Regions from separate parts of the Homo sapiens genome. Here region 1 is linked to region 2. The links come from fine-mapping of genetic effects on plasma protein levels. A gene starts in region 2. The other region holds a variant in brackets. All regions are shown on one strand. Distances are between the middles of the regions.

Region 1 (2,856 bases), 9.1 kb before region 2:
GATGGAAAAGGAGCTGCAGATGCAGCAAAGCCAAAGTCTTGGTTATAGAGGCACCATCTACACTCATCCTTGGAAGACCAACCCCAAATCACTTCAGGTTGCTTATGGTTAACATAAAAAAGCTTTGCTTTCTCCCTGTGTCTAGGCCTTAGTTAATAATGAATGCCTTCATATAGTTTATATCAGTGTAGGAGGTCTGTGATGAAAGAGGCCAGAAACATTCTTACCTGGATCTCCTTTCTCACCCTTCTCACCAGGGGTGCCATCTCTGCCATCACGGCCTGGGGCCCCATTATGGCCCGGATGCCCTGGGATGCCCGCCATCCAACCTGTGCAGGCCCCCTTGGGCAGGGGAAGCAGGACTCCGGGCCCTTGAGTCGTGGTTTCCTGGTCATGACCGGGCAGAGCTAATAGCAGTAGAACAGCTCCCAGCAACAGCATCCTGAGCCCTGGAATCCACATGTGCACTGTC[A/G]GCCATGGAGAGACAGACCCCACACACACACCCAGTTGGGACCTACAAAGGACTCCGTCCATCTCAGCAGAGTCTACTTCTAGGAGCTGCTTTCTAAGTATTCAACTTTTCCAGGAAGACTTTTCTGAATATTGCAGCCCACCTTGATCTCTTTCTGCCCTGAAATCTGTAATACTTAGCATTATTCCCTGTGTGTAGTCTCCTTTCCTCACCAAGATTATGAATTCAGTGATTGCACAGATGACACTCCTCTAATTTTCCCATGTCTGAGCACAGGACCAAGCACAGGGAAAGCTCCAAGAGTCGACTTGCCAAGAATCCATCCTTGGGTTTCCCAAGTACGATGACACAGATTGCTCCATTCAATGCTAACCAGCTTCTCTCCTCTGGCTCCTTTCTTCTTTTTCTTTCCCCCCTTCTCTCTCATTTTCTGTGTCTATTCCTCCTTCTTACTCTCTCATTCTCTTTCTTCCTCTACCCCTCTCCTGGGGCACATGTTTGACTATTGGGTATATTACATTTGCACACATGCACACACACAAACACACACAGAGAAAAAGAGAGAGAGAGGGAGGGAGAGACTCACCTTGTGTTAAGCAGACAACGAGAGACACATCATCCCATGAACATATCCCCTGGCCCTTTGTTTGCCTGAGCCATCTTTAGCTGCCCCTCCTCCCCTGTCTAATCTCTATTCAGCTTTCAGGACCCAGTTTGGATGTCATCTGTTTCAAGAAGTCCTCCTTGTTCTCCATCTCACTCCTTGGCTGGTTCTTTCCCCTCTGTGTTTCTCCAGTGCCCTGGTAATATGGTTTGGGTCTGTGTCCCCACCCAAATAGCACGTCGACATGTGTTGGAGAAGGGGCCTGGTAGGAGGTGACTGAATCATGGAGGCAGACTTATCCCTTGCTGTTCTCATGATAGTAGGTGAATTCTCACAAGATCTGGTTGAAAGTGTGTAGCACTTCCCCTATATTCTCTCTCTCTCTCTTTCTCTCTCTCTCTCCTGCTGCTGTGTGATGTGCTTGCTTCCCCTTCGCTCTTTCTTCCACCATGATTGTAAGTTTTCTGAGGCCTCCCCAGCCATGCTTCCTGTACAGCCTGTGGAACTGTGAGTCAATTAAACCTCTTTTCTTTATAAATTACCCAGTCTCAAGTAGTTTTTTACAGCAGTGTGAGAATGGATTTATACACCTGGCTTAGCTCTATCATTGCACTCTGCTGTAATTTCTGTTTTGCTCACCCATTTCTCCATTAAACAGCAAGTACCAGGGGACAAAGACTAACACACTAATAGCAGAGTAGGGACTAAATAAGCACTTTTATAATGAGGAAAAGAAATCATGAGAGAGCCAGAGAAAGGAAGGGAAGGAGGAAGGAAAAGAAGAAAGGAAGATAAAAAGGAAGAGTGGAAGAGGGAAGGAAGGAGGGAGGGGGAATGTATTTGAAATATGTATTCTGGAGCCCTAGCAAAGAGCTCAAGTGGCACAGGTAGTCAAAAGCCTCCCTGTCTCAAAATCATTCTTTGATATCCCCCTCCCAGAAAAGGGCCCAATACAGGTATAGGGACTTTTATCCCCTCTCAGATTCTGCCTCCGATCTTAGGGGGATCTTAGGCCTCCACCTCAGATTGCTGAGGTCTTAGTCTTCCCACTCTCACCAAGGAGTTGGGAGAAAGCATCTCACAGAGAGAAATAGGTCCTAGGATCCTGGATTAGAGGCATCACTAAGACCCTCTGTGGGTTAATGTGGTTAATCCCAAGAATCTGATTCTAAACAAAGTGTAGTCCATGTACTTTATTTTACCTTAAAAATTCACTATTTTTCATCAGTTTGCTTGTCTCTTCTAGATTATATGAAGTCTCCAGAATTAGGTTTGTCTTCAGGACAACTGAAGGTTTGTTGAAGACAAACCTACTCCTCTGTGAGGGATGGAAGAAAGACCGTGATTGGCAATCTCACCCCAAAAACATGGGCCTGGTATCTGGAATCCCACTCCTATGCCCCATTACCTGGGGTTCTATACTACCCTCTTCACGTGGCACATCCAACTCATCTTTCATCTTTATCATATATATGAGATAAATTTTGTATATACATATAAACTATATGTATATATTACATATATAGTTCATTAAAAATAATAGTTATATAGTTCTTTGGACATGACAGAAAAGAAAACAATACTCAACTCCAAGAATGTCTCTGTTTATTTTTAAACATAGTGGAATCATACTTTATGTAAAACTTTATTCCTTTATTTTGTCTTTGGCATTTTCTAGTTTTTATAATGACTATTTTTAACGTCTCAGAGTGAGTGCTAGTCTAGTAAGTGGATATAATCAATATATATTTGACCATTTATATTTCATCAAACTTTTAGC
Region 2 (2,911 bases):
CTGTAATACCAGCACTTTGGGAGGCCGAGGCAGGTGGAATATGAGGTCAAGAGATCGAGACCATCCTGGCCAATATGGTGAACCCCATCTCTACTAAAAATATAAAAATTAGCTGGGCGTGGTGGCGCATGCCTGTAGTCTCAGCTACTTGGGAGACTGAGGCAGGAGAATCGCTTGAACCTGGGAGGCGGAGGTTGCAGTGAGCTGAGATTGTGCCAAAAAAAGACTCCTCAAGACTTAAGGAAGAGTGGCAGCAGGGACTGCTGAGGAAGCTGCCGGGCTCCCTGTGTACCACTGGCCTTCATGAACAAAGCTGACACCATCATGCTCCTTCGGACATATTCTGCTAGCATAAAGGGACCCCCATCTCCCCAACCGAATTAGGCAGAGCTGGCCTTCCTTCTAGCGGAGTTCCTAGGAGTGAGTTGGTGCCACCCCTTGTGAGGCTTGATCCAAAAACCAGAACCTCTCCAGACCAGGGATCCATGTCCTCTAACACAAGAGGGGCAGACCTAACCTCTAAAATCCCTCCCACTCTAACCTTCAGCATCCACAGCTCAAAACAACCAGGATGCCTCAGAAACAGCACTCACTGGGGCGAGCAGGATTAGGCTTCAGAAAAACCAGGTAGATCCAGTTTCTTCTGTCAGAAAATGTTTTTTTTTAATTACAATTTTTCATAAGTTGCCACTATATGCCAGGCTTTTCTCATTTTATCTCATTAGAGCCTCTTTTTCTTTTCTTTCTTTTTTTTTTTTTTTTGACACAAAGTCTCGCTCTGTCACCCAGGCTGGAATGCAGTGGCAACAATCTCGGCTCACTGCAACCTCTGCCTCCCAGGTTCAGACAATTCTCCTGCCTCAGCCTCCCGAGAAGCTGGGATTACAGGCACCTGCCATCACGCCCAACTAATTTTTGTATTTTTGGTAGAGGCGGGGTTTCACCATGTTGGTCAGGCTAGTCTGGAACTCCTGACCTCAGGTGATCCACCCGCCTCGGTCTCCCAAATTGCTGGGATTACAGGTGTGAGCCACCATGGCTGGCCTCATTAGAACCTCTTGATTACCTTGTAAGATATCCCTATACCTACATATATCCCCAAATCCATAGACAACAACCATGTCACACTCATTGTATCTTGTGAACCCAATCCACTGTCTAGCCCATAGAATTTGCTCAGTAAATATTTGCTGAGTAGAATAAAGTGGCAGAGCTGGATTCCTAATTCCAGTCTGAAGTCAGTGCTCAGCTTGACTTTTCTGAAGCTGCCTTCATATATGCTTCTTCCTTTGCCCTACCTGGTCAAGCTAAGAGGCAATGTATTCCCTTATCCCCCTTAATCGAATTGGACTTCATCTGTGGACAGACCCTTCCACCTTACTGACCCTAACTTTTTCTCAATAGGTATCCTGCTACAGAGCGAACTGGGCAAAATTCAGAATGGTTCCATGCATCTTAGAAGGAATGTCTGAAATAACCCTTTCTCTCTTGGGGCTGTGGGAGAACGGAGGAAGAAGCCCAGTGCATATCTGCCTCCACCAGTGCTGCTCTGACCAGAGTATCCACCTGTATCCACTCCCACACTACTACGGACGGGAGAGCCTGGGTGATCCCAGCCAGAGGCTATGCATGCATCCCCCACCCAGCCTGGAACTTCACAGAATTGCTCTTACCCTCTGGTATGGAATCAGAACCACAGACTGCAGTCAGAATGGAAGTGAGGAGGAGATGGCCCAGCCTCAACAGCCTGGTACTCACGGGGGCAGGCAGTCCCCACCTCACAATTGTCATTTCCCATTGGCCAACTCAGTGAGGGCCAGAGGCCGGTGGGCAGGCACATGTCCCTGGCAGTTGCCCACAGCCTGCACCCTAGGGAACCTGGTACAACCCAGCTTGGGCTTCGGAAGCCAAGTGGAGCTTCAGTCAAAGCACTTGTGTTTCCAGGCCTTGACCCTTATTTTGCCTCCTACAACAGCAACAGAAGATGGGGCAAAAGTCAAAACCACAGCAGGAAAACAAGATTTTTTTCCTGCATCTGACGGAGAAACTTCCTAATGTAAATGAATTAATTGCTCAGTGGTCCAGGAGGTCTCCCCCTCCCATAGATTTGCCCTAATAAGTCAGGGACGCCAATTATCACACCACAGTCTTGCTCACTGTGCATGATTAAGTCTGAGACTGTGTACGTTCAGACAGTGAGTGCTTCAGAAGGGAGCACTGTCAGAGGGGTCTGCAATCAGGTAAGAAATAGAGCACATCCTCCACTCTCTGACCTGGACCCTGGATTTAGGAAAGACCTTGCACATGAATTCTGAGAACTGGGGTGTGGGGAAGTTCCTGGAGTGGTGTGGGGCTTGGCAAGTTAAAAAGGCCCTGAATTCTTAAAGCTTGTGGCCTCGAATCGTAATTTGAATCTAATATAATAGAAAACTTACATAAAATGTGATATTGGAATACCATCTTTCAAGATTTTTTGGTTCCAAAATTTCGGATAACATTTTGACAGCTACCTTGGTATGTGTGTGTGTGTGTTTGTGAGAGAGAGAGAGCCTGTTTTTCCAGTTCCTTAAGCATATATATGCCTATTCTGTCTCTTGTGGAACCCAGCTCTGGCCTAGAAGCAGCCTGGAGAACTGGAAGCTGCCACCCACTTAGGTGTTCCTAGAAAGTTTAGGCTTGAAGTGGCAACATTCAACACCTTGGACTTTCTTGGCACGCTCATGTTTTGTTTTTGAAGGGCAGGATCTGAGCCGGTTCTTGCAAGCCACACATTCTGATGAATTAAATTACGACCCCAGCAAGGGCTTAGGATGCCAGCACCAACTTCAACAAGACATCCAAAACAGAATTTTCTCAGACAGAGGCAGGGCAAGTGTCTGCCTGCCCCCCAGATATCATCTCCACAGTCCAC

Direction of the effects. Alleles are on the strand shown, and positions count from the first base shown. The strength of an association depends on the size of the effect and on how common the allele is.
As copies of G replace A in region 1, the plasma level of the protein whose gene starts at base 1,713 in region 2 goes down (moderate association).

Evidence for each region. PIP is the posterior inclusion probability: the model's chance that the variant is causal. Protein levels are from antibody-based Olink assays in UK Biobank. Linkage for the fine-mapping came from a reference panel and not from the study's own genotypes, which makes the PIPs less certain.
Region 1: its variant is fine-mapped to the plasma level of the ADIPOQ protein (UK Biobank, PIP above 0.99).

Annotation. Positions count from the first base shown.
Region 1 is chr3:186,850,644-186,853,499 of GRCh38, reverse strand. It overlaps ADIPOQ (adiponectin, C1Q and collagen domain containing), which reads right to left. Exons shown (of 3, transcript NM_004797.4): 2 at 228-449. The coding sequence starts at 441. It overlaps ADIPOQ-AS1 (ADIPOQ antisense RNA 1), which reads left to right. Exons shown (of 4, transcript NR_046662.2): 4 at 258-1,614. Among named protein-coding and RNA genes, the nearest start is that of ADIPOQ-AS1, 9.3 kb to the left of the region's middle. RefSeq lists an enhancer at 450-2,856. The variant A/G (reference allele first, on the strand shown) is at 473.
Region 2 is chr3:186,841,512-186,844,422 of GRCh38, reverse strand. ADIPOQ (adiponectin, C1Q and collagen domain containing) reads right to left here and starts at 1,713. Exons shown (of 3, transcript NM_004797.4): 1 at 1,674-1,713. RefSeq lists an enhancer at 1-1,673, a cis regulatory region at 2,262-2,289 and a promoter at 1,691-2,389.